2 separate regions of the Homo sapiens genome follow, and region 1 is linked to region 2. Evidence: fine-mapped expression QTL. A gene starts in region 2. The other region holds a variant in brackets. All regions are shown on one strand. Distances are from middle to middle.

Region 1 (15,988 bases), 62 kb after region 2:
CAAAATTTCCTAGGACAACCTGATTTTGAAACCAAAACCAAAAAAAAAAAGAAAAAAACCCACTTAGAATGAACGACTGTAAAACACCTCTTTCAAAACCTGATTGATCAAATCGGACAAAAATAAAGAATGGAATACAACGCAACAAAATAAGTAATATGCTTGTTATAAAACTTTGTACTTGGCCAGGCACGGTGGCTCACGCCTGTAATCCCAGCACTTTGAGAGGCTGAGGTGGGCAGATCATGAGGTCAGGAGTTCCAGACCAGCGTGGCCAACATGGTGAAACCCTGTCTCTACTAAAAGCACAAAAATTAGTCGGGCGTCGTGGCACATGCCTGTAGTCCCAGCTACTCGGGAGGCTGAGGCAGAAGAATCACTTGAACCTGGGAGGGGGAGGTTGCAGTGAGCTGAAATCACGCCACTGCACTCTAGCCTGGGTGACAGAGCGAGACTCGGTCTCAAACAAACAAACAAACAACTTTGTACTTGTGAAATTTTTATAGGCCATAAATAAAATATGCATTAAGTCCCCAAAATGAAGGTTATACATAACAAATTAATTATATTTTAGATGCCAAATTCATAAAACTAGAAATTCATCATAAAAATGACAAAGAGTAGTTGGAAGTTTTTAAAAACCACTAAATAATATCTGAACCAAAAAAAATTAAACATGAAATTACGAACTTCTCTAGAAAGTTAAAAAAACAAACAAAATATAGAGTATTTCTCTTTTAAAACCTATGGGAAACAAAGCTGTACTTTAAGAAAAAGTTACAGCTTTCAGTATTTTTATTATCAAAATAAAAGGCTGAAAATAAGTGTTCAATTTAAGAAAGTATACAAAAACTGAAAACAACAAAATGAAACAAACAAACAAAAGTAGTAGAAAGGCTAAATTAAACCAAAAACTGATTCTCTGGGAAAAATAAATAAAATGGATAAAGTCCAAGCAAGTCTGATTAATGAAAAAAGAAAAAATAAAAACAGACAAATGGGCCAGGCGCGGTGGCTCACGCCTGAAATCCCAGCACTTCAGGAGGCCGAGGCAGGCGGATCACGAGGTCAGGAGATCGAGACCATCCTGGCTAACACGGTGAAACCCCGTGTCTACTAAAAATACAAAAAATTAGCCGGGCGTGGTGGCGGGCGCCTGTAGTCCCAGCTACTCGGGAGGCTGAGGCAGGAGAATGGCGTTGACCCGGGAGGCGGAGCTTGCAGTGAGCTGAGATCGCACCACTGCACTCCAGCCTGGGCGACAGAGCGAGACTCCGTCTCAAAAAAAAAAAAAAAGAAAAAGAAAAAGAAAAAATCAAAAAGAAAATTAAATATCTATTGTTTTAAAAGACTCTAAGAGACAATGGAATTTTACTTAACTGAGCTCTAACCTTTAAAGCTCAAGTAATTCCTATGCTATTTAAATATTTCAAGTTTATGGAAAAAATAGAAATCTCTCTAATTCACTTTACGAAATTAGCATTTAATACCCAAACCTGACAGTACAAAAAAGCAATAAACTTATAAGAATTTTGCATATGCGTGGTATAAAAATTATTTTTAAAAATTCATAAATAGAACCGAGCATACACTCAAAGAAAAACACACTGACAAAGGGGAGTCAGTCCAGTAATTCAGGGAGTGGGCCAATATCAGGAAATCTACAAACTTCACCATCATTTTAAAGCTAAAAGCCACTAAATGAAAAAAATGATACAAAATTTAGCAGTTCTTCTGAATAATAATTCAAAGTAAAACACATATCAAAGGAAACAAATTGAACATAATGTTTTAAAAACTAGCTCCCAAAACTCAACAGCAATAATCATATTAAATGTTGATATGCAGAAACTAATTCCATTAAATCAGGAACACAAGGATGCAAATGTCACCATTTCTATGTAGCACTTCAACAGAGGTTTTAGCAGTTAAAAATAAAAAGAAACATGAACTAAGTAATGAGGGAAGGGAATATAATTTATTATTATTATTTACATATATATTTTTTAGAGATAGGGTCTCACTCTGTTGCCCAGGCTGAAGTACAGTGGCACAATCTTGGCTCACTGCAGCCCCGACCTCGCAGGCTCAAGTGATCCTCCCACCTCAGCCTCCCAAGTAGCTGGGACTACAGGCGCCCCCCACCACACCCGGCTAATTTTTTAATTTTTTGTAGAGACGGGGTTTTGTCATGTTGCCCAGGCTGGTCTCAAACTCCTGGGCTCAAGTGATCTTCCTGCCCCAACCTCCCAAAGTGCTGGGGTTACAGGCATGAGTCACCGCACCTGTCCTGAAATTATATTTATTTGTATATGATATAATTGTATGCCTACAATACCCACGAGACCAAAACTTGTAAGAATAACAATTTGGCCAGGCACAATGGCTCACACCTGTAATCCCAGCACTTTGGGAGGCTGAGGTGGGTAGATCGCCTGAGGTCAAGAGTTTGAGACCAGCCTGGCCAACATGGTGAAACCCCGTCTCTACTAAAAATACAAAAAATTAGTCAGGTGTGGTGGCGAGTACCTGTAATCCCAGGTACTCTGGAGGCTGAGGCAGGAGAATCGCTTGAACCTGGGAGGCAGAGGTTGCAGTAAGCCGACATTGCGCCACTGCACTCCATCCTGGGCGACAGAGTGAGACTCGGCCTCGAAAAAAAAAAAGAATAACAATTTTGTTGAGGTGCCTGCAATCAAGATAAATATACAAAAATCAACAGGCTTTTTTTTTATGTCAGCGATAGACAACTGAAATGGAAATTTTAAGATGTCCCATTCAAAGGCCACAAAAACTATAAAATACCAGTGTACATTTACCAAGTACATTTACCAAGTACATTACCAAGAAGTACATTTACCAAGAAGTACATTTACCAAGAAGAGAAATAAACTATATAATGTTAGTAAAGAACATTAAAAAATACATGAATAAGGCCGGGTGCGTTGGCTCACACCTGTAATCCCAGCACTTTGGGAGGCCAAGGCGGGCGATCACCTGAGGTTGGGAGTTCGAGACCAGCCTGACCAACATGGAGAAACCCCCATCTCTACTAAAAAAAACAAACAAAAAACAAAATTAGCCAGCTGTGGTGGCACATACCTGTAATTGCTACTCAGGAGGCTGAGGCGGGAGAATCGCTTGAACCTGGGAGACGGAGGTTGTGGTGATCCAAGATTGCGCCACTACACTCCAGCCTGGGCAATAAAAGCAAAACTCCGTCTCAAAAAAACACGAATAAAATGAAGCAACATACCATGTTCCAGAATAAGATTTACTATCATAAAATGTCATGCCTTCACAACTGAACATATACATGTAATGCAATTCCAAAGAGGATTACAATGAGTTTGGGTTTTGTTTTGCTTTAGAAATAAGAAAAAAATTAGCTTAAAGCTCAATGAAGTGATATGTTTTTAAAGAGACAGTGCTTTTTTGAAAAACATAAGAATACTGACAAAATAAAAGAAAAACAAAATAGTAGAATTCCTGACTTAGGAAAATAGTCATACTTATTCTAGAGCTTCTGTAATAAAAAAGCAATGTAGGTATATACAGCTATTGTGTAGCCATAAAAATTTAAAGTTTAAACTAAAAAAAAGTAGCATGCTCTTGGCCTCCCAAAGTACTAGGATTACAGGTGTGAGCCACCATGCCCAGCCTGAAATTATCTTTATTTGCAAATGATATAATTCCATGCCTACAAAATCCGAGACAAAAACTTATAAGAATACTTCGAATTCGGTGAAGTGTCTGTAATCAAGATAAACATACAAAAGCCAACAGGTTTTTATGGAAAAAAGAAAAAGAGGAAAGAAAAAGGAAAAAGATTAAAAATGTATAGATACTTTAATGGTAGTGGCATTGGGAGAAAATATCTGCAAACCATACATTTAATAAGGGGCTAATATCCAAAATATATAAGGAACTGAAACCACTCCATAGCATGAAAACAACCTAATTTAAAAATGGGCAAAAGACCTAAATAGACATATCTCAAAAGAAGATATACAAATAGCCAACAAATACATGAAAAAAGGCTCATCATCACTAACCATCAGGGAGATGCAAAGCAAAACCACAATGAGATTATCACCTCACAACTGCTAGGATAGCTATTACCAAAAAGACAAAAGATAGTTAAGTGTTGGCGAGGATATGGAGAAAGGGGAACCCTTGTGCACTGTTGGTAAGAATGTAATTAGTACAGCCATTATAGAAAACAGTCCGAAGCTTCCTCAAAAAAATAAAAATAGAATGAAGATATGATCCAGCAATCCCACTTCTGGGTGCACAGCCAAAGGAAACAAAATCAGGATGTTGAATAGTTATCTGTACTCACATGTTGATGGCAGCATTATTCACAGTAGCCTGGGTACCCATCATCAGATGAATGATTTTAAAAAGTGTGGTATATATACAACACAAAGGAATAGTATACAGCCATTAAAAAAATAAGGAAATTCTGTCATTTGCAAGGACATGGATGAGCCTGGAGGACACTGTGCTGAGTAAAATAAGGCAGGCTCAGAAAGATAAATACCACATGATCTCACTTACACGTGGAATCTAAAAAGGTTGAACTCATAGAAACAGAGAGAACAGTGGTTACTGGGGCCGGGGGGTGGGGGAAAAAGGGAAGGGGGATATTGATCAAAGGGATCAATTTCAGTTAGATAGAAAGAGTAAGTTTTAGTGATCTATTGCAGAGGATGATAATTATAATAAATACGAATGCATTGTATATTTCAAAATTTCTGAAAGAGTAGATTTTAAATATTTTCACCACATAAAAATGGTGTGTGAGGTGATGGGTTTGTTAATGAGCACAATTTCATCATTCTGTAATATAAACACATTAAGACATCACGTTCTTCATAAATATATAATATATACAACAATTATTTATCAATTAAAAATTAAGGCCAGGCATGGTGGCTCACGCCTGTAGTCCCAGCACTTTGGGAGGCTGAGGTGGGCAGATCCCTTGAGGCCAGCAGTTCAAGACCAGCCTGGGCAACAGGGCAAAACCCTGTCTCTACTAAAAATACAAAAATTAGCTGTGCACTTGTGGTCCCAGCTACTCAGGAGGCTGAGGTGGGAGAATTGCTTGAGCCCGGGAGATCAAGCTTGCAGTGAGCCAAGATTGTGTCACTGCACTCCAGCCTGGGTGACAGAGTGAGACTCTGTTTCAAAAAACTTTCCTTTAAAATTTTTAATTACATTAAAATAAGAAAAAGAAATGGTAGTAGCATCTAGGGGGGAAAAGGTTATCCCCTACCTTACACCATTTCAATCAGAATAAATAACTAAATGTTATCATGGAAGGAAGAGGAGGCAGGGAGGAAAGGAGGAAAACACCCCTACCTCATACCATTTCAGTCAGAATAAAGAACTAAATGTTATCCTGGAAGGAAGGAAGAGGAGGCAGGGAGGAAAGGAGGAAAACACCCCTACCTCATACCATTTCAGTCAGAATAAAGAACTAAATGTTATCCTGGAAGGAAGGAAGAGGAGGCAGGGAGGAAAGGAGGAAAACACTTTATTGGAATAATATTTCGGGGACTATCTCTACAACTGCGAGGTGGTGAAAGCTTCTTAATAAGTAATGCAGGAAACCCAGATGCTGTAAAGGAAAAAATACATGACTACATAAAAGATGTTTTAAACAAGATCAAAAGACAAAAAATAATTAGCAGAAAAATACATGCAATATTTTATTACTTCAAAGGGTAAATATCCCTGTTATCCAAAGAGTTTGGCTGGTTGCGGTGGCTCACACCTGTAAGTGCAGCACTTTGGGAGGCCAGGGCAGGCAGATCACTTGAGGTCAGGAGTTTGAGACCAGCCTGGCCAATATGGTGAAATCCCATCTCTACTAAAAAATACAAAAATTAGCCAGGTGTGGTGGTGCCCGTCTGTAATCCCAGCTACTCTGGAGGCTGAGGCGGGAGAATCACTTGAACCTGGGAGGCGGAGGTTGCAATGAGCCGAGATCACACCACTGCACTCCAGCCTGGGCGACACAGCAAGACTCCATCTCAAAAAAGAGCTACTATAAAATAGTTAAAAAAAAAAAAGAAAAGAAAAGAAAAGGAAACCTCTCCAGGAAATGGGGAAGAACACAATGGAAAACTTCAGAAGAGGCACTGCCAATGGGCCAGTCCACGAAGTGCAGCACACGGCGCCAGCAGGACATGGCAGCACCCATTCAACAGGCAGTATGTCAGACGGGAGCAAAGCGTCCTCCCCTTCATGGCTTCAGGAATGTAACTTTGCTATAACTTTGGGAATAGATCTCTCAATAACTATTGAAATTTAAATGTTAAATATGCATACCCTTTGACCCACTAACACCATTTAGCTCCCCTTCATGGGAATCTAGCCTGTAGAAATGAAAGAAAGTGTCAGGACCCATGCATAGGAATGTGTCTCTCAGTACAAACTGTGGCAAAAAAACAGACACAAAATGAAATCCATCAATGGGGAATGGTTGACTAAATATGTTGTATCCTCAGTACGGACTATTATGTAAACATAAAAAGAATAAATTTTTGCCTGTAATCCCAGCACTTTGGGAGGCTGAGGCAGGCAGATCACAAGGTCAGGAGATCGAGACCATCCTGGCTAACACAGTGAAACCCCGTCTCTACTAAAAATACAAAAAATTAGCCAGGCATGGTGGTGGGTGCCTGTAGTCCCAGCTACTCGGGAGGCTGAGGCAGGAGAATGGCGTGAACCCGGGAGGCGGAGCTTGCAGTGAGCTGAGATCGCGCCACTGCACTCCAGCCTGGGCGACAGAGCGAGACTCCGTCTCGAAACAAAAAAAAAAAAAAAAAAGAGAATAAATTTTTATTTCCTGACATGAGCAGATGTTGAAGACATATTACTAACTGAAATGGAAAAAAAGATGGAGGGTGTTATTACAGCACAAAAGGACTGAAAAGGACTTATTTTTCTGTATTGTTTGAATTCTTATGAGGGTACATTTTGTAACATCAAAAAGCAAATTAAAAATATGGCTCATTCCAAGGTACAAAAAATTACTCTGGCAAATCAAAGTTTTTCAAAGTATCTTCAGACTCAAAGAAGTCAAAAAATAAGCTGGACACAGATAGACACTATTTGTTCCTGTAGCAGCTGGAAACCACAGTGAAAGGGCGTTGGCTTTTCCTCCTTAGAAGGGCCTCAGCACCTGACTTTGGAGAGAGCCCATTCTTTGCCATTTTTCCTCTACATGGTGGTTGTCAATGGACTCTTAGGGGACCAAGAATCACTTTACAACATTCTGTTCTCCTATTCAAAATGGGTCATGCTCCATACTTCTCAGAGTCATCACCCAAAATCATACATTTCAATGCTTTTTCAAACATGTGAATACCACCCAGAAAATTCGTAAGCATGCCATTATCCTCCAGGCCCTTTATTACATGATCACCATCATTAAAGTCCTAACACTTAACCATTTTGTAGTAGTTATGACAACTGTTACCTTAACAGTGAACAGATCAGATGACAACGTATCCATGGCCAGGTGGGACGATGTGGACCCAGGAGGACCTAAAATCATGGCCAAGAGACCTCTGCACCACATGCTGACTCTGTAAGGCCATCTCTCCTTGAGTGCTAGGTATTGTTGAAGGAGGGAGTTTCTACTTGTCTCTACTGTGACTGAACATGAAGTACAGACTTTTATAAGTAATATATATATTTTTTGAGACGGAGTTTCGATCTTGTTGCCCAGGCTGGAGTGCAGTGGTGTGATCTCAGCTTACCACAACCTCCGCCTCCTGGGTTCAAGCGATTCTCCTGCTTCAACCTCCCAAGTAGCTGGGATTACAGGCAAGCACCACCACACCTGGCTGATTTTTTTTGTATTTTTAGTAGAGACGGGTTTCTCCATGTTGGTCAGGCTGGTCTCGAACTCCCGACCTCAGGTGATCTGCCCGCCTCAGCCTCCCAAAGTGCTGGGATTACAGGCATAAGCCACCACACCCAGCATAAATAATAATTTTTAAAAGTGCATTAGTTTAGCAAAAACGTGACAGGGATGTCAGTGAAACACCTTTGTGTTACAACTGTCATTTTGTACACCTTGGACAATTCCATTCAACGAACAATTTAGTTAGTTTTGAAGTCTCAATAACATAGTCAGAAAAGAAACTGCTGTAATCTCCCCTTATCCATGGATTCAGTAACCCTCGGTGAACTGCAGTTCAAAAACATGTGCGTACAATACAGTAAGATATTTTAGGAGAGAGACATCACTTTCACATGACTTTTATTACAGTATATTGTTACGACTGTTCTATTTTATTATTAGCTGTTATTAATCTCTTCCTGTGCCTAGTTTATGAATTAAACTTTATCGTAGATATGGAAGGATGCATAACAAAACAGTGTATATAGTGTTCACTACTATCCTTGATTTCAGGCATCCATTGAGGGTGTTGGACCGTATCCCCTGAAGATAAGGTGGGGCGACTGCACGTGGATTGAGAGGTGCCCTCACTGCTGCAGAGCTGTGGTAACAACACTCACTTGTGGTTCCCAGACAAGACTCTATCTGGTCGTGAGCCCCCAACAGCCAGTGGTACTGCTGTCCAATCTGACAGATGGAAACCAGCGCCAATCAGCCTGCCTGGAGCGGCACAAATAAGCCTAAGACTCAAACTTTCAGCCAGTTAACTGTAAGTAAACCAACTTTTTGGTAAGGAGGAAATACTCACCCAGCTCTTGGGCAAGATAAGTGTCTTTATTATAAAAGGCGTCAATTCGCAGCGTCTTTACTGTAAAGGTGGTGGTATTATTAGATTCTTCCTTTCCACTAACACAAAACTCCCAGTGCCGGAAGGCCCTTGTCAGGAGCAGGACCCGCGGAGGGGTCCGTGGTCAGTTCTGGGACAGCTGCCGAGCAGCGCAGCGCGTGGAATCAACTTCACTGCTCACGTGCAGCGCACACTAAGCGCACTCGTCTTTCCTGGAGTGCAGACCAGGCCCCGACCTCAGGGATCAGGACAGCGGGGCCAAGGGGTCAAGAGGCAGAGGCGGCGTCAGCGCCGTAGACAGCGGTCTCGCGAGGCTGGAACCAGGCGGGCGGCAGTGACGGGGGTGGGCACCAGGGGACTGGGTGAAGGGTCATGAGGGGAGGGGCGGTTACCGGGCCAGACGGTCACAGGGATCGTGTCACCGGGGAAGGGCTGGGAGGTCGGGGGTTTGTGTCACGGGATGGGGGGGAGCGGTCACCAGAAAACGGGGTGATGCGGGAGAGGGGGCGGAGGAGGGAAGGCGGGAAAACGGCAGTTGCCAGGTGGCGGGGGGAGGGGTCGCAGGGGGAGGGGTGGGCGCTCACGGGCGCAGGGTCACCGAGGGATGGGTGGGCGTTTGCGGGGGGTCATGTCACGGGGGAGTGTTCACTGAGGGAGGTGGGCGTTCACGGGGGATCGTGTCACGGGGAGGGGGTCCCTGAGGGAGGGGTGGGCGTTCGCTCAGCCGGGGTCACCGGGTGATGGGACGGAGAGAGGGGAGCGCGCGGCCGGGGAGCCTCGAGGGTAACCGGCGGATGTGGGCGGTCGGGGGCCGAGGGTAGGGCCAACCCCTCACGCCCGCCACAGCCCCGGCAGCGGATACGCGGGCCGTCACTCACCGCGGCTGCCGGGCGACGCAGCCAAGGGCTCCCGGCGCGGATGAGCGCTGCGACAGCGGACCGGGCGGCGAGGCCACTACAACCGACCAAACCGACCGGCCGACGCGGAGCCAGTGCGCAAGCGCGGGAGCCGGCCCGGCACTGCGCAGGCGAGGCTCGGACCAATCAGCGCCCAGCGGACCCGGAGGGACGTGGCGGAGGGGGCGGGGCGGAGGGGGCGGGGCGGATAGGGCCGGGCCTCGGTCCGCGCCGGCGCGCGCCTCTGGCTCCGCCCGGAACTAGTTTGTTC[A/T]TTCATTCGCACGTGGGCACTGAGTTGTATTTGCCCGCCCTCCCGCCGGACACCTGCTGAGCGCTGGTCACACTGACAAGCACAGCTAGCGGCTCCCCTCGCGGGCCCTACAGTCTAGGCGGGGAGGATAGATAAACATGCAGTTAGAAGAGCACCAGGCAAAGCAGCCGGGATGGGGCAGGCTGAGGTCTGTTTTAAATTGGGCAGGGGAGTCGGGGTGCCTAGGGAGATGAGATGTTACGTGGGATCCGAAGATCCACAAGACTCTTGCCTGTGACCACTGAAATGGTGGGACATGTCCCTGGTTTCGTCGTGTCCACTGTAGACGGGTGAGCTTTGGAGCTGTGCATCAGGCGCCTTCCACTGCATAACCTGCCCATCTATTTAAGAGTGAAACCCGTATCACTTACCACCTGTCCATTTCTTCATGGTACTTATCCCCTGAATTATTTTATCTGACCTGCTAGGATGCAACCCCCTTTTTTATTTTGCTGGCAAGTATAGCCTAGTTGTCTAAACTGCCACATAGTATGTACTTTATAAACAGCTGAATAAACCAGTAATTCATCCATCTCTCTGATCAGCTTTTTTTTTTTTTTTTTTTTTTTTTTTGAGACGGAGTCTCGCTCTGTCGCCCAGGCTGGAGTGCAGTGGCGCGATCTCGGCTCACTGCAAGCTCCGCCTCCCGGGTTCACGCCATTCTCCTGCCTCGGCCTCCCCAGTAGCTGGGACTACAGGCGCCCGTCACCACGCCCGGCTAATTTTTTGTATTTTTAGTAGAGACGGGGTTTCACGGTGTTAGCCAGGATGGTCTCGATCTCCAGATCTCGTGATCCGCTCGCTTCGGCCTTCCAAAGTGCTGGGATTACAAGTGTGAGCCACCGTGCCCGGCCAGCTTTGATTTTCTTAAACAGCCAAGTGTTGTCCTTCCGCCACTCCAGCACTAGTGGTAAAGTTGGCATGAAATATGCTACATTAAATATTCATTGAATAGGGATAAAACAGAGCCACACTACAGCTGGAGAAATAAGACAAATACTGTTGTTCAGCCCAAGATACTACTGGAGGAGAACACTGGGGAGAAATGAATAAATGAATGAATGAATGGATGCACACTTAGTTAAGTGGGAGTAGTCTTCAAAGTAGGAGAAATACTTTACAACAAAGGAGACGAGCACAAAGTCAGGGAGACAGGAAAGGCTGCACAGGGGGCAGAACGATGCTGCTCTGGGGGCTGGTCGGAGTGTAGGTGGCTACACAAGATCAGGCAGGAGGTCGGAAATAAAGGTTCCCGAGTAGGGGACCATGTGACAAAAAAGCTGATAGGGCCTTATTTTAAAAATTAATTCATGGCCGGGTGCGGTGGCTCACACCTGTAATCCCAGCAATCTGGGAGGCCGAGGCGGGCGGATCACTTGAGCCCAGGAGTTCGAGAACAGCCTGGCCAACATGGTGAAAGCCCATCTCTACTAAAAATACAAAAATTAGCCAGGCATGGTGGTGCGCGCCTGTAATCCCAGCTACTTGGGAGGCTGAGGCAGGAGAATCGCTTGAACCTAGGAGGCAGAGGTTGCAGTGAGCTGAGATCACGCCACTGCACTCCAGCCTGGGCGACAGAGTGAGTGAGACTGTCCCCACCCCCACCCCGCCCCCACCACACAAAAATTCATGCACTTGGCAAACTACCTGAACAGTTAAAAGGACGCGCATAACAGTGCAGATCAGCAGCCTTGATCCTTGCCCCCCAGTCTCTCCCTCCACAGAGGCAGTGCTAACACAACGTACAATCGTCCCTCAGCACCTCCCATGGATGCCAAACTCCGAGAGGCTCAAGCCCCTGATGCAAAATGCATATAACTCAAAAACATCTTTTTAAAATCATCTCTGGGTTACTTACAATAGTGAATGCAATGTAAATGTCATGTAAATAGTTGTTATGCAGCATTGTTTAGGAAATAATAACCCCCCCAAAACAAGGTCTGTATATGTTCAGTATAGACACATTTTTGTTTCTGAATATTTTTGCTCCTTGGTCGGTTGAACTCATGGACGTAGAATCCACCACATGCAGGGGCAAATACTTCCAGGATATTCTATGCACATCCAGGCATACAACCAGTTCCATCCTGGTAGCATACTTCACAAACTCATCCCCCAGCACAGCTGTACTTTGTAGAGGCTGCACTGCATTCCACCGAATGTATATAGCATAATCTACCCAATAAAATGGGAACTTTAGAAAAATTAGGGGAATAGATGCTGCAGCAACAGCATAGCAGGGCACCCTATGGCAAAGGAATCTCCCCTCCCATTGCCCTGGATCACAATGCCCAACTCTGGGGTGTTGGTGGGCAGCTGTCACACGATCTGACATCTCGAGTAGGAGGTGACACAACACACTCCGGGCTCAGAAGCTACCTTAAGGTCTTGACGGCTGTGCGCAGGCACAATTGCTTCACCCACTGGCCCCTGGTCGCTACTGGACAGCAAACAGAAACACAGCTTCCAGGCCAGATAAGCCCGCCATAGGGCCTGCTGCCACAGGCACACTTGGCAAAGACGTGATGGTAGGGTCAGGATGACAGAAACAGTAGGCTTTGCAAAACCTGCAGTCCTCTTCGTTGGGAGTATAAAAGACAGACACCAAGTGCAGCACCCAACATTGGACTGGATCCTCAAGCCACCTTAGGAGAGGGGACATGGGGACACAGAGGCCCTGAAGGAGGAAGTCACCTGCCCCTGGTTATGTGGCTGGTAGGCATGGAGCCGCAGGTGCACCAGGCACTGCAGTACAGACCCCCAGAGGCCAGGGAGCACCAGCCGGGCTTTGCAGCTGGCTTTCTCGCCCACCCTGGTATCTGCACTATCACCTGCAGACACGAAGTGTGCAACCAGACCCTGGGAGCTTTCAATCTGGAAGACCGGAGGTGGAAGCCCAAAGCTGCAGGGCCAAGTGCCCGTGCACCCCCGTTTTTGTGGTGGGAGAAAAGATACAGAAACTAAGGGGCTTCTGGGATGCTTCTTTACTTTGCGTAATGTGTGCGTTTTCAATTAAAAGTGTACGTTGATTTTTGTAATCAGATTTAAAACGAAACGAAGAAAAGTCTAAAAGCAGAAGAAAAAGAGAAGCAACAACTCGCAGGCCATCTGCTCACAGGCGTTTTCGGTGGTGAGCACCTGTGAGCCGGTGTCCCTGCCCTTACTTGGGCACACAGACTGGGTGTGGAAGGACACTGGTGCCAGTTGGGCACACAGACTGGGTGTGGAAGGACACTGGTGCCAGTTGGGCACACAGACTGGGTGTGGAAGGACACTGGTGCCAGTTGGGCACACAGACTGGGTGTGGAAGGACACTGGTGCCAGTGTGGCCCCCAGGACATTGACGACGGGTGCTGTGAGGGTGGCAGGCCACATGGGGCAGGGCGGTGCCAGCTCTTTCCTCCACGTGCGGCTTTGGGAAGCGGCTGCCTGGTGGACTTGGTGAATGTGATTTCTGTTCCTTCCAGGTCCTTCTATGGCCACGGAAGAGTGGGTGAGGGGAACACCTCTGGCTCCAACATTACTTGTTGGTTTTTTCTTCACACAAATGAAAAATTCAGCATCTCATTTAACTTAAATACCAGTTTTCTATGAAAGACAAAATGAAAAAATATATAAAAAGGTCACTTTATTTTGCCTTTTGTTTGGTATGCTATCAATGCCCTTTAAAATCCTACTATTCAAGTACAAATGCTGATGTTTACAAAGTATTTACAATTTTAGTCTTGTTCCTTTCTATCTTAAAACACAACAGCTAACTGGTTACAACAGTTAACAAAATAATAATAATAAAGGTCACAAAAAGAGAAACCCCTGTCTTATCAGGCACCAAATCTGAACAAGGGCTTGGATCCAACCTTCTGCTTCCCGCCAGGTGCTTTAAAAACAGTCTGGCTAACTGTTTTTATCATCAGAATAAACGTCTTTCTTTAAAGAATAGCAGGGCAACTGTTTCCCAGGGTCGCCAATTAGAGTCTGACAGTGTTCGGGCTGCTGCCTTTATAGTCTGTGTTCTCAAAGTTTCCAACTCTTACTTGCCGTATTGGAATGAACCCAGATTCACAAGGGGAAGGCCTAGACAACAGCTTCCTGAACGCGTACTTAATTCTTAGGTTAGAAACTTTAACCTTTAAAAGGGAAGGCCAAGAAAATAACACACTAAAAGGAGAGTTTTTACGTACACGACTAAATGAATTTAACTCAGGTCAACGGTAGCATCTAGAAGTTACTAAATTGAGTGCTACGAGTAAAAATATGTCCGTGTTTTGTATTAGGGAACAGCCAAAGGAAACACACTTGAGAGACAGGAGACCCTCACTGACGTGAGATCGGGGCGGAAACTCCACATTGCAAATATTCAGAATCCCATTAAGCTCTCCAAAAAAGCATTTGAGAGATGGTGTTAAATTCTCTTGTAGTGTTTTAGATTAATAGAGCGCTTTTACTTAGACAGTTATGTCTAGGATATTCTAAAATAAGTGCACTCAACATTTTATCTTCAACTATAAGGAGACTACCAAGATTTGGGAAAGACAAAAAAAATGAACAGGGCACACAAATTAAAACAAATGACAAAGGCAGAATTCCTAGATACTTCAGTTCTATCACATCTGCGGATGAGGAGGAGTAAAAGTTTCCACTGGGAGCCAGATGTGAGGCGCACACAGCGGCCCTCCCTCCGGCAAGCTGCGCTCTCACGGCACGTGCCAAGCCAGGGAGAACGGGTTGGTTAGAACAAACAGATTCCAGTCCTCTGCTTTGGTATGTTCAACTAACTAAAAGATTAATTTCTTCTGTTTCTTCAAAGCTTGGTTTTTACTTTTCTCCACATTTCTTATCAAGAGCTCAAGTGAGCTCCCCAGTTGATTTCACTGACTCCTGCTGTATCGCTGTCCACAGAAACCTGTGGGACAGAATACCTTCCTCAATGTCACTTAAAGTGAGAGAATGGGGAGGAAGCAGATGAAATACAATTTAAAAACAGAAAATCTTTATTGTGCCATAACTGATTTTTAGTATACAAAAAACCTAATATAACCTAATTTCCTGGACCAAATAATGTAAAATAGGCCAAAATCAAGCCACAGCACAAAGGATACTATTGGATATGGACCTTTTTGCTTTGGTGAAAACTTCAAAGTAAGGAGACACTGTCAATCAATTCCACTAAAATTGCATTTATTTTCCTGTCATAGTAAAAAAAGGAAAAACAGTAGCAAATACTGGGCTTCGTTTTCCCCCTCAACGGCACGCCTTCCACAACAGCACAGGTGGTTCTCTGCTTCACTGGCAGAACCACACAAGCTTATCCTAGAGAAAATCTGCTGTCGTAAGTCCACAAGGAAGAGTTGACTGGGCCCACCGCTATAGCCAATACTTCCAGAATCACCAGCCCACCTTCGTCAAAGGGCTGACTGTGGCAGCAAGGGGTGTCTGTCACATTCGTCCTGGCTCACTGAGCCCAGGCCTCATCGTACCCTCAGCTGTGACATCTGTACTACCATTGCCTCTGCGTGGTCCTCTGGGCCTCACGCCAGCCATGGCAGAGTGTCCCAAAGGTTCTCAGGAGCTGTTTAACACACTATGTCAAATACCAGCTTCCCCCGAAAACTGGAGATGCGTCTTGAGTGCACTGAGTTGGGCATCAGTCCCAGAAGTTTCCATTAAATGAAAGCGAATCCCATTGCAGGGTAGGGCCTGGGGGAGGCCACTGTTGGCTGCTCTTTGGAATAACAATGCAATGACTGATCATTTCCCTTGAACACAGGCCAGGAACGTGCCTTGTGTGTTTAGGTGGGTGTCAGAACATTTCTCTTAAAAGTTAAGTCATATTTTAGGAGGGAAGGAAGGAACCATATTGCCTTTCTTTGGAATGGAAAACCCATCTCGGATGATTGACTTTAGACAGGCCTTCCCCTCTGCGAAGACCACGAGGCATTTTTCAGTAAGGTATAAAGAACTAAACTCTGGCAGACACTGTGGAAGCCCACGCCTTATCTTTAGAAAGTCCATTG
Region 2 (15,855 bases):
CGTGTAGTGTGTGTAGTGGTGTGTGTAGTGGTATGTAGTGTGTAGTGGTGTGTGTAGTGGTTTGTATGTAGTGTGTGTGTAGTGGTGTGTGTAGTGGTATATGTAGTGGTGTGTGTAGTGTGCGTGTAGTGGTGTGTGTGTGTAGTGTGTGTAGTGGTTTGTATGTAGTGTGTAGTGGTGTGTGTACTGTGTGTGTAGTATGTGTAGTGGTGTGTGTAGTGGTGTATGTAGTGTGTGTGTAGTGGTGTGTGTAGTGTGTGCGTGTAGTGGTGTGTGTGTGTAGTGTGTGTAGTGGTTTGTATGTAGTGTGTAGTGGTGTGTGTACTGTGCGTGTAGTGTGAGTAGTGGTGTGTGTAGTGGTGTATCTAGTGTGTGTAGTGGTGTGTGTGTGTAGTGGTGTGTGTAGTGTGTGTAGTGGTGTGTGTACTGTGTGCGTGTAGTGTGTGTAGTGGTGTGTGTACTGTGTGCGTGTAGTGTGTGTAGTGGTGTGTGTAGTGGTGTAGTGTGTGTAGTGTGTGTGTGTAGTGGTGTGTGTAGTGTGTGTAGTGGTGTGTGTAGTGGTGTATCTAGTGTGTGTAGTGGTGTGTATGTAGCGGTGTGTGTCATGTTGCATGGTGAGCTCTAACGACCCCAGCCCCCAACACCCAACTCTACCTCCTGCCACCCGGAGTGCAGGCGAGCCGTCCCCACCAAGTCCACACTGCAGGTTCACGAGCGAAATCAGTGCTGCTGCAGTTCCACACCGCTACGTTCTGAAGTCACTTTCTGAGCATAGACCCTGGCAGCACACTCTGCAGATGGGACAACTGAGGCCTGGGGCCGTGCCACCCTCCCAGCCGGGAGTGGAGCCCGCGCCGTTGGAGACCGGCATGGCCTTCACCGTGGGCTGCTGGCCCCAGTGGGGGAAGACCCAGACACCGCAGGGAACGGACACGCTCCTCGCTGTCCAGCGGGAATCGCTTACCGCCGGGGCCTTCGCCACAGCTCCCAGCACGACCGACGCTCGGGAAACGACTGCTGATTCTCCGCAGCTGATTTCCTCAACGCCAATTAAACGCTCCAGCGTCCCTTATCGCCGGAACGCGCGCTCCACAGCTCTTCAGCTATCCCTCATTACGGATGTAGCTGTGACTTCACTGTCCGGCAGCCGCGTTCATTTCCTGAAGGGAGACCCGGAATCGGGGGACGGGAGGAGAGGGAGAGACAAGACAGAGAGGGAGCGGGGGAAGCACAGGGGGAGAGAGGCCCCACTGGTGCGGCGCTGTTCTCCGTGTGCAGTGAGGACACCGCCGGGTACACGCAGGTGCCGGCTGGGTATTGGCCTCATAGGTGATTGAAGGGGCCCCTGGAATTTCTCTAAGATTCTGGAACTGACGGTGTCTCAGTCCGTCTGCACCACTGTTACAGGTTACCTGAGAGCAGGTAACTTCTAAAAAGTGACACTGTCTTCTCTCCAGTTCCGCAGGCCGGGAAGTCCAGGATGAAGGCACCAGCCTCTAGCGAGGGCCTCCTGGCTGCGCCCAACCTGACAGGAGGCCAAAGGCCAGAGAGCAGCCGGCTCAGCACCACGTGAAGAATCCACTTTTACAAAGGCCTGAATCCCATTAACAAGGATGGCGCCCTTGCGGACGAGGCACTCCTAACACCGCCTGGTGGGCAGCACCTGGATCTGGGAGGGCAGGCGCTCCTCCACAGCACAGGGGACGTCCCCGTGCTCTCGGGGATGGCGGCAACACCTGTATTTCAGAGGGCATGCGCTCCTCGGGGGCAGCACCTGGATCTCGGAGAGCACACGCTCCTCCACAGCACAGGGGACGTCCCCGTGCTCTCAGAGATGGGGGTCACCAGCCAGGGAGAGGGGACCTCAGGCGGTGAAGGAGGTCCCTGTTCATGCCCGGCTCATGCGGGGAACACAGGGAGCAGAGGACCGAACACGGTTACGTGGAGGTTGCTAGACACAGAGCCCCTCTGACGACAGAATCCAAGCCTGGCTGACTCGGAGGCGCTTTCACTCTCCTCCTGGCCTCGCCCATCATCCGAGATCCGCCTAACAGCCCAGCACAAACCCTCCGTGATGTCAGGAGGGAGGCCCTGGCTGAATCCGAGCAGGAAATACTGCAGACCCCGGCGAGGTGAAACCTAGCAGGGCAGCTCGGGCGCTGCAGGCCTGGGCAAGGCTGCAGCGGCCTCTGGTGGCCGCATGAGCTCAGGATGCCAGCACCTAGGCCCAGCCCTGCCCCAGGAGCCCAAGGAGGGCGGGGAGGGGGGCCAGGGCTCTGGAGCGTACCCGGTGTGACAGGCTGCCTGGGACACAGCAAGAGGACGGGCCCTGTCTGCCCTGCTGCAGCGGGAGTGCTGAGAGGGCTCGGGCGGGACAGCATGAAGAGTGGGGAAGGAGGGGCGCCTGTGCAGGACTACCACGCACGGGGTACCAGGGAAGGCCTCCCGGGGGGACGGGGACGGGACGTTCAAACCAGGGCAACACAGGGAAAAGCGGCAGAGGCCACAGCTGTGGCTGGTGCAAAGGCCCTGGGGCAGGAGCCAGTTCACTTGAGGAGCCCGCTGGGGCAGAGGGAAGCAGCCAGGGGGATGCTGGGAGCAGAGGCAACATCTCCACCATCACTCTGCCCCCCAAAACCCCGCTGGGCACACGGAGGGTCCCGGCCAATGCTGGGCCGGCAGGGTGACACCCCCAAGCCACGGCCAAGGCACTCCCCGCCCTCCCCAGCCACACCCACGCGCACCAAGCTCTGTTCCAGTGCCCCATCCCACCCTGTCCTCGAATAAGCAGACTGTCAAAAGGAAACTGGGGGTCACTGTGTAGACAGAAAACCTAGTTTGTTTGGTATAAATTTGGTTCCCTAAAAATAAACACCCCGATAACAAGGCTGTGCTGCAGCCGGACCAGCGCCTCCCACAGCGGGGGAAACTCCACTGCAGCTGGACCAGGGCCTCCCACGGGGGTGGGGGCAGGGAACTCCAGAGGGGCCCAGGCACTGCCTGTAACTCTACGCAGCATCTACCCGGAACTCTACGCAGTATCCACCCGGGGCCTCTACACAGCACCCACCCGGAATTCTACGCACCATCCACCCAGAACTCCACGCGGCATCCACCCGGGGCCTCGCGGGGCTCCCAGAACGAAGGCCAGATCGGCAGGACACAGCCAGCGTGGGATGCTGACACTCACAGGAACCCCCGACTCACACCAACCCCCCACTGACACCAACACCCCCCACTCAAACCAACCTCCCATTCACACTAATCCTAACCCACCCCCCACACACACCACCCCCCCATTCACACCAACTCTCCCCTCACACCAACACCCCCACTCACAACCAAACTCCCCCCAGTCACACTGACCCCCCACTCACACCACCTCCCCTCACTCCCACACACACCATACCCGTCTACACCACCATACACCTCCCACCACAACTGACCCAGGCAGAGAGAACCCCCCCAACCCTGCTCCCTCCCAGGTGTCTGGAGTGTAACCTCAGCAGAGGCCCCGAGCTCTGCCAACAGGGAGGTCACTGGGGCCAGGGGATGAGGGAGGCTGGGTGACCGGTGACACTGGTGGGCCGGAGGCCCTGGGAAAGACCACGCCTCAGGTTCCCCACCATCCCCTCCCAGGCTGTGGAGTCGGCAGGGGCCTCGCTTTGCCATGTGCCTGGTGGGCTCAGGCAGATGTGAGGCCCTCGGCCTGGCAGAGGCATCCAGCCGCCCCAGTCCACACTCCCTGAGCCTTTCTCCTGCAAAAACATTTATTCACAGGTGGGCTGGGGTCAGCTGAGATTTATTCACAGGTGGGCCAGGGTCAGCTGAGCGTGAAGTGCTGGGCACAGAGTTCACCCGGCCGTCCCAGCAGGCCCTGGGCTGGGATAAACTCCAGTGGCACCGGCTCGGGCCCCTTCTTCTTCAGGTCCCGCTCAAAGATCTGCAAAGCACAAAGCACGGCGGCTCTCAGGCTTGGCTCAGCGCCCCGTGGCCCAGACCCTCGCACCCTGGCCCAGTTCCGCACCTCGTAGGCCGTGAGCTCCAGCAGTGGCGCGATGCTGACCTCAGGCATGGACAGGGCCTGGTTGATGACGCTGGCGGCTTTGGACACCTCAGGGTGGTAGTGGCGCTGGAGGGCCTGGGGCAGTAGGGCCGTTAAGAGGCAGCTGCCCCAGGCCCCCGCCCTGTGCCCCCAGCCATGGCCTCCCTGTGCTCCCAACCAGAGTGGGCGGGGTCGGGACGGAGCCACGTGAGAAGGCCAAGCACCCAGCACCCACAAACCCAGGTGGCCAGCTGGGGACGCAACATGAGGCTATGCGGGAGGTGGCACGGGGAGCTGGGCTTTCTGAGGGGCCGAAGGATGGCTCGGGAGGCCCCAGGGTGTGGCAGCAGCGCCCTCACCTGAAGCTCCCACAGGGAGCTCTCCAAGGCCCGGCTCTGGGCTGGGTCCTCCTCTCCAGGGTCGTAGGGGTCGGCGTCCAACTCTAGGAATGAGACGTGGGCCCTTGTCTGCCGTCCACAGCACCAGGCACCCCCGCCCCAGCTCCAGCCCAGCCTCCGAGGGCCCCGCAACTCACCAGGGCCGTGTGGACGGTGCACGAGGACCCGGCAGGCAGGGTGCCGGCGCAGCAGGTTACAGATGAAAGGCAGGACCATGAGCAGGGCCTCAGGGGGAGCCGTCAGGGCCAGGCGGGCCAGCCGCTTGGCGAAGGCGGCCACCAGGTAGGCGGGGAGGTGGCTGGGCAGGGCAGTGGTTGTGAGACAGGGCCCGGACTGCTAGCCCCCACCACCCTCCCCTGGCCCCAGGCTGCAGCCGCACAGAGCAGGGCAGAGCCAGGTGCCCTGGTACTCACGAGGAGGACAGGAAGAGGTCAGCCAGGTGGAAGAAGCGGGCGCGGTACTTGACGTGAAAGACAGAGGGGTCCAAGAGGCCGTAGAGCTTCCGGTAGAAGTCAGGGTACTCCCTGCGGGCCGGGGGGAAGGAGCAGCGGATGGAGCAGGGCCCGGGAACTGAGGCCTCCAAGGCCAGGGTCTCACTCGGCGCCCCTTCCTCCCGCCCAGGGACTCCAACACCATGGCCTGTGAGGAAAGCGGGGACCCCGTGGGGCAGGGTGGGAAGGGGACAGAGGAGCAGGGCTGGGCAGACTGGGAAGAAGACCTGCACCCCTGGTGACACTCACAGGTTGTGTTTGTGAATCAAGATGAACAGCCCGTTCAAGGCCAAGAGGCTGAGGGCCCCCCCTGCAGACAGACAGACACAGGCTGGAGCTGCAGTGACCTCGCTCCCACCCTACCCCCTGCCCACACTGAGTGTAAGTCTGTGGAGTGTGGCCTCTGCCCCTGCTGTCCCCTCCCACAGCCCCCACGGACACAAAGCTGGAGACCACATGCAGGGCAGGGGAGTGGGGGGTGGAGGCAGTGGGATCGGGGAAGAGGTGCTGCGGGGTGGGGGTTGGGGGTGTGAGCGAGGCGGCGGCACTCACCGAGGGGATTAGGGGTGTGGTGTGAGCGAGGCGGCGGCACTCACCGAGGGGATTAGGGGTGTGGTATGAGCGAGGCGGCGGCACTCACCGAGGGGATTAGGGGTGTGGTATGAGCGAGGCGGCGGCACTCACCGAGGGGATTAGGGGTGTGGTATGAGCGAGGCGGCGGCACTCACCGAGGGGATTAGGGGTGTGGTGTGAGCGAGGCGGCGGCACTCACCGAGGGGATTAGGGGTGTGGTGTGAGCGAGGCGGCGGCACTCACCGAGGGGATTAGGGGTGTGGTGTGAGCGAGGCGGCGGCACTCACCGAGGGGATTAGGGGTGTGGTGTGAGCGAGGCGGCGGCACTCACCGAGGGGATTAGGGGTGTGGTGTGAGCGAGGCGGCGGCACTCACCGAGGGGATTAGGGGTGTGGTGTGAGCGAGGCGGCGGCACTCACCGAGGGGATTAGGGGTGTGGTGTGAGCGAGGCGGCGGCACTCACCGAGGGGATTAGGGGTGTGGTGTGAGCGAGGCGGCGGCACTCACCGAGGGGATTAGGGGTGTGGTGTGAGCGAGGCGGCGGCACTCACCGAGGGGATTAGGGGTGTGGTGTGAGCGAGGCGGCGGCACTCACCGAGGGGATTAGGGGTGTGGTGTGAGCGAGGCGGCGGCACTCACCGAGGGGATTAGGGGTGTGGTGTGAGCGAGGCGGCGGCACTCACCGAGGGGATTAGGGGTGTGAGCGAGGCGGCGGCACTCACCGAGGGGATTAGGGGTGTGGTGTGAGTGAGGCGGCGGCACTCACCGAGGGGATTAGGGGTGTGGTATGAGCGAGGCGGCGGCACTCACCGAGGGGATTAGGGGTGTGGTAGGAGTGAGGCGGCGGCACTCACCGAGGGGATTAGGGGTGTGGTGTGAGCGAGGCGGCGGCACTCACCGAGGGGATTAGGGGTGTGGTGTGAGCGAGGCGGCGGCACTCACCGAGGGGATTAGGGGTGTGGTGTGAGCGAGGCGGCCGCACTCACCGAGGGGATTAGGGGTGTGGTGTGAGTGAGGCGGCCGCACTCACCGAGGGGATTAGGGGTGTGGTAGGAGTGAGGCGGCGGCACTCACCGAGGGGATTAGGGGTGTGGTGTGAGCGAGGCGGCGGCACTCACCGAGGGGATTAGGGGTGTGGTGTGAGTGAGGCGGCGGCACTCACCGAGGGGATTAGGGGTGTGGTGTGAGTGAGGCGGCGGCACTCACCGAGGGGATTAGGGGTGTGGTGTGAGCGAGGCGGCGGCACTCACCGAGGGGATTAGGGGTGTGGTGTGAGCGAGGCGGCGGCACTCACCGAGGGGATTAGGGGTGTGGTGTGAGCGAGGCGGCGGCACTCACCGAGGGGATTAGGGGTGTGGTGTGAGCGAGGCGGCGGCACTCACCGAGGGGATTAGGGGTGTGGTGTGAGCGAGGCGGCGGCACTCACCGAGGGGATTAGGGGTGTGGTGTGAGCGAGGCGGCGGCACTCACCGAGGGGATTAGGGGTGTGGTGTGAGCGAGGCGGCGGCACTCACCGAGGGGATTAGGGGTGTGGTGTGAGCGAGGCGGCGGCACTCACCGAGGGGATTAGGGGTGTGGTAGGAGTGAGGCGGCGGCACTCACCGAGGGGATTAGGGGTGTGGTAGGAGTGAGGCGGCGGCACTCACCGAGGGGATTAGGGGTGTGGTGTGAGTGAGGCGGCGGCACTCACCGAGGGGATTAGGGGTGTGGTAGGAGTGAGGCGGCGGCACTCACCGAGGGGATTAGGGGTGTGGTAGGAGTGAGGCGGCGGCACTCACCGAGGGGATTAGGGGTGTGGTGTGAGCGAGGCGGCGGCACTCACCGAGGTCGCAGGCGCGGGTGAGGAAGTCGATCATGAGCGTGGGCTGCGCCAGCTGCGGCAGGATGGCGTCATGCACAATCAGCAGCACCTTCTTGTAGAGGCTGAGGGGCAGCTGGGCGGGGGCCGGCAGGTGGGGGTGAGGGGCGGGTGGGCGGGGGCCGGCGGGTCGGGGTGAGGCCTCCGCCCTGGGGGAGACCCGGATGCCGCCCCCGCCCCCTCCCCGGCCTGGCCCCTACCTTGTGCTTGAGGAAGCTGAGCCACATGGCCTGGAAAACCCTCCTGTGCTCCTGCAACGGGGTCCAGACTGCACTCGCCGCCCTCCCCACCCCAGACCAGAGCCCGAGCAGCTGCCAGGGCACCCCGAAGCCCAGCCTGAGCCAACACAAGCCTGCTCTCCACTTTTCTGACCCTGCCTTCCTTCTTCCTGTCCCCATTCAAGTCAGGTACGCCTTGCCCTCGAGGCTGGAGTCTCAGAACAGCCAAGAAAGCAGCTTTGGCAAGACCATGGCCAAGAGGGGGGCTGCGCCCAAAACAGCCCACGGGGCCCACAGGTGGCACCAGAGGCTTGACTCCAAGAGGCGGCGGTGGCCTCTGACCCAAGGGAGGGTCCCGAGTTCACAGGTCTCGTCACCTCCCACACTTCGAGTGACCTGGTGGCCGTGCAAGCTGCCACCTGTACCCTGGGAGTTTCCTCTGGTGAGGAAGGCGGCAGCCTCCATGGGGTCTCACATGCACCCCACACACACCCCCAAACCCGGGAGGGTGCCCGGCTCTCCAGAAGCAACTCACCTTCAGGTGAGCAACCTTCCAGGTGTCCCACAGCTCTGCAGGGAAAGCGAGGGCAAAGGTCACCTGACCCGCAGGGGAGGCAGACCAAGGCTCAGCCCTGTCCGCCCCTGACTCTCAGCACACTCACCCGCCCGCTTCACATAGAAGCTGGAGACGGTGGGCTCCCGGCGGGGCAGGCTCACGGCAGACAGCAGCGTGAAGGCATTGTTCCAAAAGGCGGGGGGCACCTGCGGAGCCTGGCCTGAGTGCCTGGACGCCGCCCCCCAGTCCCTGCCTCCCTGGGAGGCAACAGCATGATGCTGGCGACAGGACCCCATCACCCACCTCGGGGTGCTGGCCAGTGACCCGGGCCACGGCATCCACGGCTGCCTGCATGGTGTGGTAGCGGGTGTCGTCGTAGTCCAGGTACTCCCGGAACTGGGACAGGAGCAGGCTCTGGTCCTCCTCAGGAGACAGCAGGCCTCCCACCACCAACTAGGGGCAAGGACCAGTGAGCAGCCCTGCCCGGCCCAGCATACGCCAGCAAGGTCCAGGCAGGCAGCCCTGCCCCATCGAGCCCCCCAGGCAGACTCCTCCTGGTTGGGTGGGCCACAGGAGCCACAGGAGTGTCCCAGCCAACAGCCAGGCTCAGCTCAGCAGGCCCCGCCCCCACTACGGGGCCATCCTGGGATCTGGCCAGCCAGCCAGGCCCTCTGGGAGTCCCCAGCAAGGCCCTCACCTTGAAGAGCTCTCGGGGGAACAGGTAGTTGCCTTCCCACTTGGACTTCTCCAGGGGGTGCGCTCCTTCCAGCTGCACGAACTTCAGGAGTGCGCTGAGGGCCAGCTCCTGGGAAGGGGGCAGTGCAGGGTGGCTGTGATGCCCTCACCCCACGGATGGGCCCAGAGCTCAGCCCAGTCAGGGAGCCCCTCCCATCTAGGCCCAGAGCTGAGAAAAGGGCGGCCGGGCCTTCTCTTGCTCCACACGCCACCAGATGCCACTCTGGGCTTCCGTGTCCCACCCATGACGTAGAGATGACAAGATCTCTAGTTAAAGAGATCCAGTGCTCACGACAGAGTCTGGCGGGGGAAGGGTACACAGCCCAGGTCTGCTTTATGGGCCACCTGACTGCTCTCTCGTCACCTGTGTCACGGGAATGCCACCATAACCCTTGGGAACAGCTGTGAAAACACAGGCGTGTGATGCCAGCATGGTGCCCAACTCAGACCCAGGCTTGGAAGCTCTCATCTCGGGGTGGCAAACTCAGTGCTTTCAGGGCCCAGGCAAATGACACCACAAAGCAAAAGAGCCTCGTGCGGGATGACAGGAGCACACGGCTGTCTCAGAGCTGTCTCTGACTCTCCCTCCAGCCAATCGCAGCCATGAACAAACTTAGACCCCGTGTTGACAGAACTGATTATTTCTTTCTGAGAAGGTGGAAACTGGTTATTTTCACGTGGTATCTCCCCAACATTTAAAAGTCTGCAGCTCGGCTATAATTATAGACAGACGTGTTGGCGAGGATGTGGAGTATGGAACTCTCAAATGCTGCCAGGGGGAGGGTAAGATAGCGCAGCTACTATGGAAAACAGTCTTGTAGTTCCTCAGAACATTAAAAACACAGCTGCTGTGTGGCCTTGTAATTCCACTGATAAGGCATATTCAAGCAAAAGAAACATCACACAAGAGTTTGTACGCGAACGTTCACAGTCCGCTGTTCGTAACAGCCAAAGGTGGAAACGACGCAAATGCCCAGCAACCTACGAGCGGCTGAACGATACGTGCTGTGCTATACGACGCGCTGCTACTCAGCCACAAAGAGAACGAACTTCGAACACGCCGATGAGTGGAAGAAGCCACATACCGTATGATCCCCCTTATGAGGAGCGTCTAAAAAAAGCAAACCCATTGATCCAGGAAGTAACCACTGATCCAGGAGTGGCTGCCTGGGGCTGGGGGTGGAAAGGGGCGGGATATGGAAGCGATGGTAACTGGTACAGGATTTCTTTTCGGGGCGATAAAGATGTTCTGGGATAGCGGCAACCACTGCACAACACAGTAACAGATGCTAACTTCTCAGCTTTAAACGGTAAACTGTGCCTCAGTTATTCCTCACTACAGATTTTAAGAAAGCTCATAATGCATTCCCATGGCTGCAGACCACAGTGTGATCTGAGCAAACACATCTGTGGACTGGCACGAGGCTTGGTGTGCGTGCTCTATGCAAACACAGAGATCCCCGTGGATGCCACTGGAAATGAACACGGATTCTGCGTCTTCAATATTCACTACAGGACTCGATAGCCATGTTTCTGAATGGGACTGAACACCCACAGGGTGATGCTCCCATGAAGGAAGCAGCTTTGCCTGGACAATTGTGGGAGCCCCAGACCTCTGCTTTGTGGATAACCTGGGAGTTGGGGTGCAGGGGATGGACAAGGATGAGGCCAGCCCAATGACCCACCTTGACCTGAAAGGAGGGGTGGCCCAGGAGCTCTCCCAAGCGATTGCAGCAGCTGTGATAGCGGTGTCTCATCCACACCTTGTACTTCCGTGTGGCTCCCTGGGACCCTGCAGACAGGTTAGGGTGGTCAGCCCACGTGAGGCCCACATACGCCACCCTGGGCCCAGCCCAAAATCTCAGGCCTGGCTCCACCCTCCCATTGTCTTCTACTCAGCCTCCGCAGGTGGAAACAGGTCGCTAAGGCCCCCAGACCTGTGCTGAGACCAGCACATTCCCTGAGCCCTGCAAACAGGAAGAGCACCTCCTACCCCAGGACTGCCCCAGCCAAGCTGCCAGGAGCAGGATCCACATCCCCTCTCTTTACTCCAAGACCTGACGTCCCCAGGATGGGGACATAAAGGAAGCTCCGAGTTTAAGCGACCGTGTCAGGATCAGTCAACATCAAATTACAAAAGGGGTGCAAAGCACACAAAAAGTCGTACCTTGTCCAGTGTTCATCTACACTCAGCTGCAGGGCACCCATGTCACCCCTGCCCCAACGCCACCATCCATCTTCCACGGTGGGCTTGGTGCGTCCTCCCACCAGCCTGCACGGCCTGTGCCAGGGTTGGGGGCGCTCATCCCATGGTGACAAAGCCTCCCTCCGACCCACGGAAAGAGAAGAGCAGCCCCGGGGCCCTCCAGGGCTCACCTGTCATGACCATCTCCTCAGAGGGCAGCTGGCCCACAAACAGCTCTCCCCGCTCCAGCAAGGCCCCGAAAAGACGGCTGCACGTGCGGACTGCTTCCTGGATCTCCTCCTGGTCCTCAGACTGCAGGAGAGGCGGCGGCAGGGTGCCCGGCCGCCAACTGTCACCTTCGCCCCTGCCTAGGCTGCCCCCAACCCGTTCCCTTCCCCCTCGGGACGCCAGCCCCGTCACCCCCGACCCGTGACCCACACGCCTCCCACCCTGACCCCCCAACGCCGTCTCGGAACCTCCTGGGGACCTGCCGCCGCAGCCCCCCATTCAAGTCCCGCTCCCGTGCCGCGACTCCGGCCCTGCGACGCCGCCAGGCCCACCTGCAGCACGGCCAGGATGTCGAACACGGCGTTGGCCTCACTGCGGCTCGCCAGCACCGCCTCCAGCCGGCGGCCCAGAGCCCGGCGAACTCCCGCGGCGCCCGGCTCCCGCTCCATGCCGCCCCCAACACGGAACAACGCGGATTCTCAGCCGCCGGCGCTCCCGTGACGTCACCACTGCGCGTAGAACCCGACGTCATCTCTACGCGCCGTACCCCAACCCCATCTTTTGCGCGGAGCCCGAGTCGCAGGCGTGCCGCCGACGTCATCGCAGCGCGCCACGCCCGAGTCCCAGGCGTGCGGCTGGCCATGGCGCTGTTCTACGTCGCGCGGTACCCGGGCCCCGATGCGGCAGCTGCGGCGGGGCCGGAGGGCGCGGAGGCCGGGGCGCACGGCAGGGCCCGCGCGCTGCTCGAGCGGCTGCAGAGCCGGGCCCGCGAACGGCAGCAGCAGCGGGAGCCCGCGCAGACCGAGGCGGCTGCATCGACCGAGCCGGCGACCAGGAGGCGACGGCGGCCCCGGCGGCGGCGGCGGGTGAACGACGCGGAGCCGGGGAGCCCGGAGGCGCCGCAGGGAAAGCGACGGAAGGCGGACGGCGAGGACGCGGGCGCAGGTGGGCCGCGGGGCGAGCGGGCTCCCTCTGGGGCGCCGGCGACTCGGTGCTGACGCGCTGCCGGGTGGGTGTCTGCCTCGCAGAAAGCAACGAGGAGGCGCCAGGGGAGCCCAGCGCAGGGAGCAGCGAGGAGGCGCCAGGGGAGCCCAGCGCAGGGAGCAGCGAGGAGGCGCCGGGGGAGCGCAGCACCAGCGCCAGCGCCGAGGCGGCCCCAGATGGACCGGCCCTGGAGGAGGCGGCCGGACCCCTGGTCCCCGGCCTGGTGCTGGGGGGGTTCGGGAAGAGGAAGGCGCCGAAGGTGAGCCTCGGCGGGCGGGAGGGTGGTCGGCGTGAGAGGGTAGGCTGCGCGGATTCTTAAGTGCGGCGGTCGCCCCGGAAGATTTCGTTCAGCGAATGTTCCCGGGTCACAGCCGCGCCTCGCTGCCAGGTCTGCAGTTTCATCGCCTAGGGGTCTGGATCCTGCACGTGCAGAGCTCCCGTTTCCTCTGCTAGGCTTGCCCCTGTCCTCCCGCCGCGCCGCGCCAGTTCTGCAAGATGTGTTTGCGTGAACGTGCGGGGTTTCCTGCTGTGCGCTCACCGCCTCAGGAGTAAGTCAGAGGCCGTTCTGCAAGCTCCTGACCGTTGGTGTTTTTGCTTAGCACGTGTGGTTTTCGGTAAAGAGATTTCCGGCGAGACAGGTGAAGAAAGCGAGAAGTTTGACAGAGTGCTCGGGCACCTTAGGTAGGGCAGGTGGAGGAGGTTCTCTTTGAGTTGGGATGCAAAGACTTGAAGCCAGGTCAAGGTTGGGGGTTGGGGGTGCCAGGCAGAGGCCTCGAGGCAGGGACGCCGGCGTGGCTGGGGCAGGCGAGCGCCAGGTCACAGGACCTCCTGGCTGCGGGAGGGTGGGTGCCACTGTGGGTTGATGGGAGGCTACAGAGTGAGTTTGCTCAGGGAGTGGCATCTGCTTTTACTGTTTAACTTCTGAAGGCTGTATGGAAAGCGCATCCTGGGGCTGAGAAGGAGCTGAAGACGACAGAGGTTTCCCCAGCCTCCCTCCCCTAGCTTTTTCCACCGTGGGCTTCTGCGCGAGAGCCTGGAAAGCGCTCACCTGGCCTCTCTTTCTTTTTGATGGCAGGTCCAGCCTTTCCTGCCAAGGTGGCTGGCTGAGCCTAACTGTGTCAGAAGGAATGTCACCGAAGACCTGGTTCCTATCGAGGACATCCCTGACGTCCATCCTGACCTGCAGAAGCAGCTGCGGGCACACGGCATCTCGTCCTACTTTCCAGGTGCCCCAGCCCCGGGCAGGCAGCTGAGGGAACACCTCCCTGGGCACCCACACACAAGGCTGTGAGTGGCCGTGGGTCAGGCGTCCCTGCCACATCGGTGCCAAGTGTGGTCTCAGCACTCTCAAGCTCATGGTTCCCACTTGGGTCTCCTGAGGCTGGCGTTCCTCTGGGCCTTGGTGCCATCCCTCTGGGGAGCGGTTCCCAGGCCTCCAGCAGAGCAGCCCAGCCCAGAGGTCACAGGCAGGGAAGCGGCAGGCCTAGGCCTAGGCGTAAACACGACTTCTCTCTCGCCTTTCCTCATCCAGTCCAGGCAGCTGTGATTCCTGCCCTCCTGGAGAGCGCAGCCTGTGGGTTTCTGGTGGGCAGAGGTGGCTACCGGCCTAGCGACCTCTGTGTTTCTGCCCCAACAGGCAGTGGGAAGACACTGGCCTTCGTCATCCCTGTGGTGCAGGTCTGTGTGAGGGTCCCCTTTCTCTACAGCGGGTGTGCAGAGGACAGGTAACAGCCTTGCTGACGCAGGCGCTCCTTCCCCCTCAGGCCCTGCTTTCGAGAGTGGTCTGCCACATCCGTGCCCTGGTTGTGCTGCCCACCAAGGAGCTGGCCCAGCAGGTATGTGGACCCTAGACCTGGAGCGTGGCACCGCCCGCCTCAGCTTCCCTGCTGAGTGCACAGCGATCAGCCCCTGGGGGACCCAGATTAGATCTGGGGTCCTTTTTGCTGCAGTAGGTGGACACCAGCTACCTCCAGGCCAGTGACAGACTTCTCCTGCAGGTGAGCAAAGTTTTCAACATCTACACAGATGCCACACCTCTGAGAGTCTCCCTGGTTACGGGACAGAAGTCTCTGGCCAAGGAGCAGGAGAGCCTCGTCCAGAAAACGTAGGTTGTGTCAGGGTGCGGGTTTTTCAGGGGGTCCCTGCTCAGCCCTGCAGGTGGCCTGAGGCACCGTGGGAGCAGAGGAGGGGCCACCATCTTTAACCACCTGTTCCCGTGAAGAGGAGGAGCTCCCACCGGCCCCCTTCCCATGTGGGGTGGAGTCGGGGCTGTGGGGTGAGGCAGCGTCTTGCTATCCGGAAGCCCTTGAGAAAGCTTCCTTCTCTCGAGCTGCTCTCTGGTCTGTAGAGCTGATGGGTACCGCTGCTTGGCTGACATCGTGGTAGCCACCCCCGGCCGCCTGGTGGACCACATCGACCAGACCCCAGGATTCAGCCTCCAGCAGCTCCGCTTCCTGGTAGGTCCCCGCCCCAGGGGCCTGGGCTTTGAGCTCAGGGCCGCGCCACCCAGTCCCGGGCTCCCTGTCTCCTGCAGATTATCGACGAGGCTGACCGGATGATTGACAGCATGCATCAGTCCTGGCTGCCGCGGGTGGTGGCGGCCGCCTTCCAGAGCGAGGACCCCGCGGACCCCTGTGCCCTGCTCCAGCGAAGGCAGGCCCAGGCTGTGACAGCCGCCAGGTATCCAGCAGCACGCCCAGGTGCTGGCCTCCCCTGAGCAGAGTCCTCTGCACACAGCTCTCCTTCCTTAATGCCCAGAGATAAGGGTGGCTTGAGCTCTGGTGCACAGAACCGCATCGTACTGTCACGTGAGCTGGACCCACCTTGCTCCTGGTCTGCGGCAGTCTCTACAGTGCGTAGCATGAGGAATCCTGTTCCCTGGAGGTTCGGGGCAGCCACTGGTAGGGTGCCAGCAACACCCCCTTCTCTTCCAGCACCTGCTGTCCCCAGATGCCCCTGCAGAAGCTGCTCTTCTCAGCTACTCTGACCCAGAACCCTGAAAAGCTGCAGCAGCTGGGCCTCCACCAGCCCCGGCTTTTCTCCACAGGGCTAGCACACAGGGGCCTGGAAGATACAGATGGGGACGGGGATTCGGGGAAGTATGCCTTTCCTGTTGGGCTCACGGTGAGTGGGATACCGTGTGGGCAGAGGGTTGCACTGGGAACCTGGGGCCCCTAACCAACCCTCACCTCCACCCCGACCCCCTGCCGTCCCTGTAGCACCACTACGTGCCCTGCAGCCTCAGCTCTAAGCCGCTGGTCGTCCTGCACCTGGTCCTGGAGATGGGCTTCTCGAGGGTTCTCTGCTTCACTAACTCCCGAGAGAACTCCCACAGGTGAGGCCCCGGCTGGGCGGGGGTGGCAGAGGTGGCCTCTGGTCCCAGCATCACTTGGCCGCAGCCTTCTCTCTGCCTAGGCTCTTCCTGCTGGTGCAAGCTTTTGGGGGTGTGGACGTGGCTGAGTTCTCCTCGCGCTACGGGCCTGGCCAGAGGAGGATGATCCTGAAGCAGTTTGAACAGGGGAAGATCCAGCTGTGAGTTCCTGGGCAGGGGCAAGGCCTCTGTGGGGTGGGGGTGCCCACTCCAG

The links. PIP is the estimated chance that this variant, and not a neighbour inherited with it, causes the effect.
Region 1: its variant is fine-mapped to the expression of NOC4L in thyroid (GTEx, PIP 0.98). The same link has a PIP of 0.9 or more in whole blood.

The regions. Positions count from the first base shown.
Region 1 is chr12:132,078,058-132,094,045 of GRCh38, reverse strand. It overlaps EP400 (E1A binding protein p400), which reads right to left. Exons shown (of 53, transcript NM_015409.5): 53 at 13,586-15,988. It also overlaps the pseudogene EP400P1. Among named protein-coding and RNA genes, the nearest start is that of SNORA49, 55 kb to the right of the region's middle. RefSeq lists silencers at 7,432-7,608, 9,453-9,902, 9,923-10,002 and enhancers at 8,793-8,842, 8,384-9,244, 10,661-11,162. The variant A/T (reference allele first, on the strand shown) is at 9,936.
Region 2 is chr12:132,140,370-132,156,224 of GRCh38, reverse strand. It overlaps NOC4L (nucleolar complex associated 4 homolog), which reads right to left and starts at 11,768. Exons shown (of 15, transcript NM_024078.3): 1 at 11,620-11,768; 2 at 11,251-11,371; 3 at 10,560-10,666; 4 at 8,837-8,944; 5 at 8,443-8,592; 6 at 8,246-8,345; 7 at 8,119-8,153; 8 at 7,566-7,616; 9 at 7,330-7,441; 10 at 5,184-5,244; 11 at 4,857-4,967; 12 at 4,581-4,741; 13 at 4,405-4,487; 14 at 4,028-4,141; 1 more. The coding sequence starts at 11,736. The coding sequence ends at 3,824. DDX51 (DEAD-box helicase 51) reads left to right here and starts at 11,906. Exons shown (of 15, transcript NM_175066.4): 1 at 11,906-12,232; 2 at 12,316-12,530; 3 at 13,347-13,497; 4 at 13,803-13,948; 5 at 14,035-14,106; 6 at 14,269-14,375; 7 at 14,619-14,727; 8 at 14,805-14,950; 9 at 15,205-15,394; 10 at 15,490-15,605; 11 at 15,686-15,802. The coding sequence starts at 11,929. RefSeq lists enhancers at 1,449-1,949, 11,686-11,985, 12,915-13,820 and silencers at 11,996-12,045, 12,116-12,315.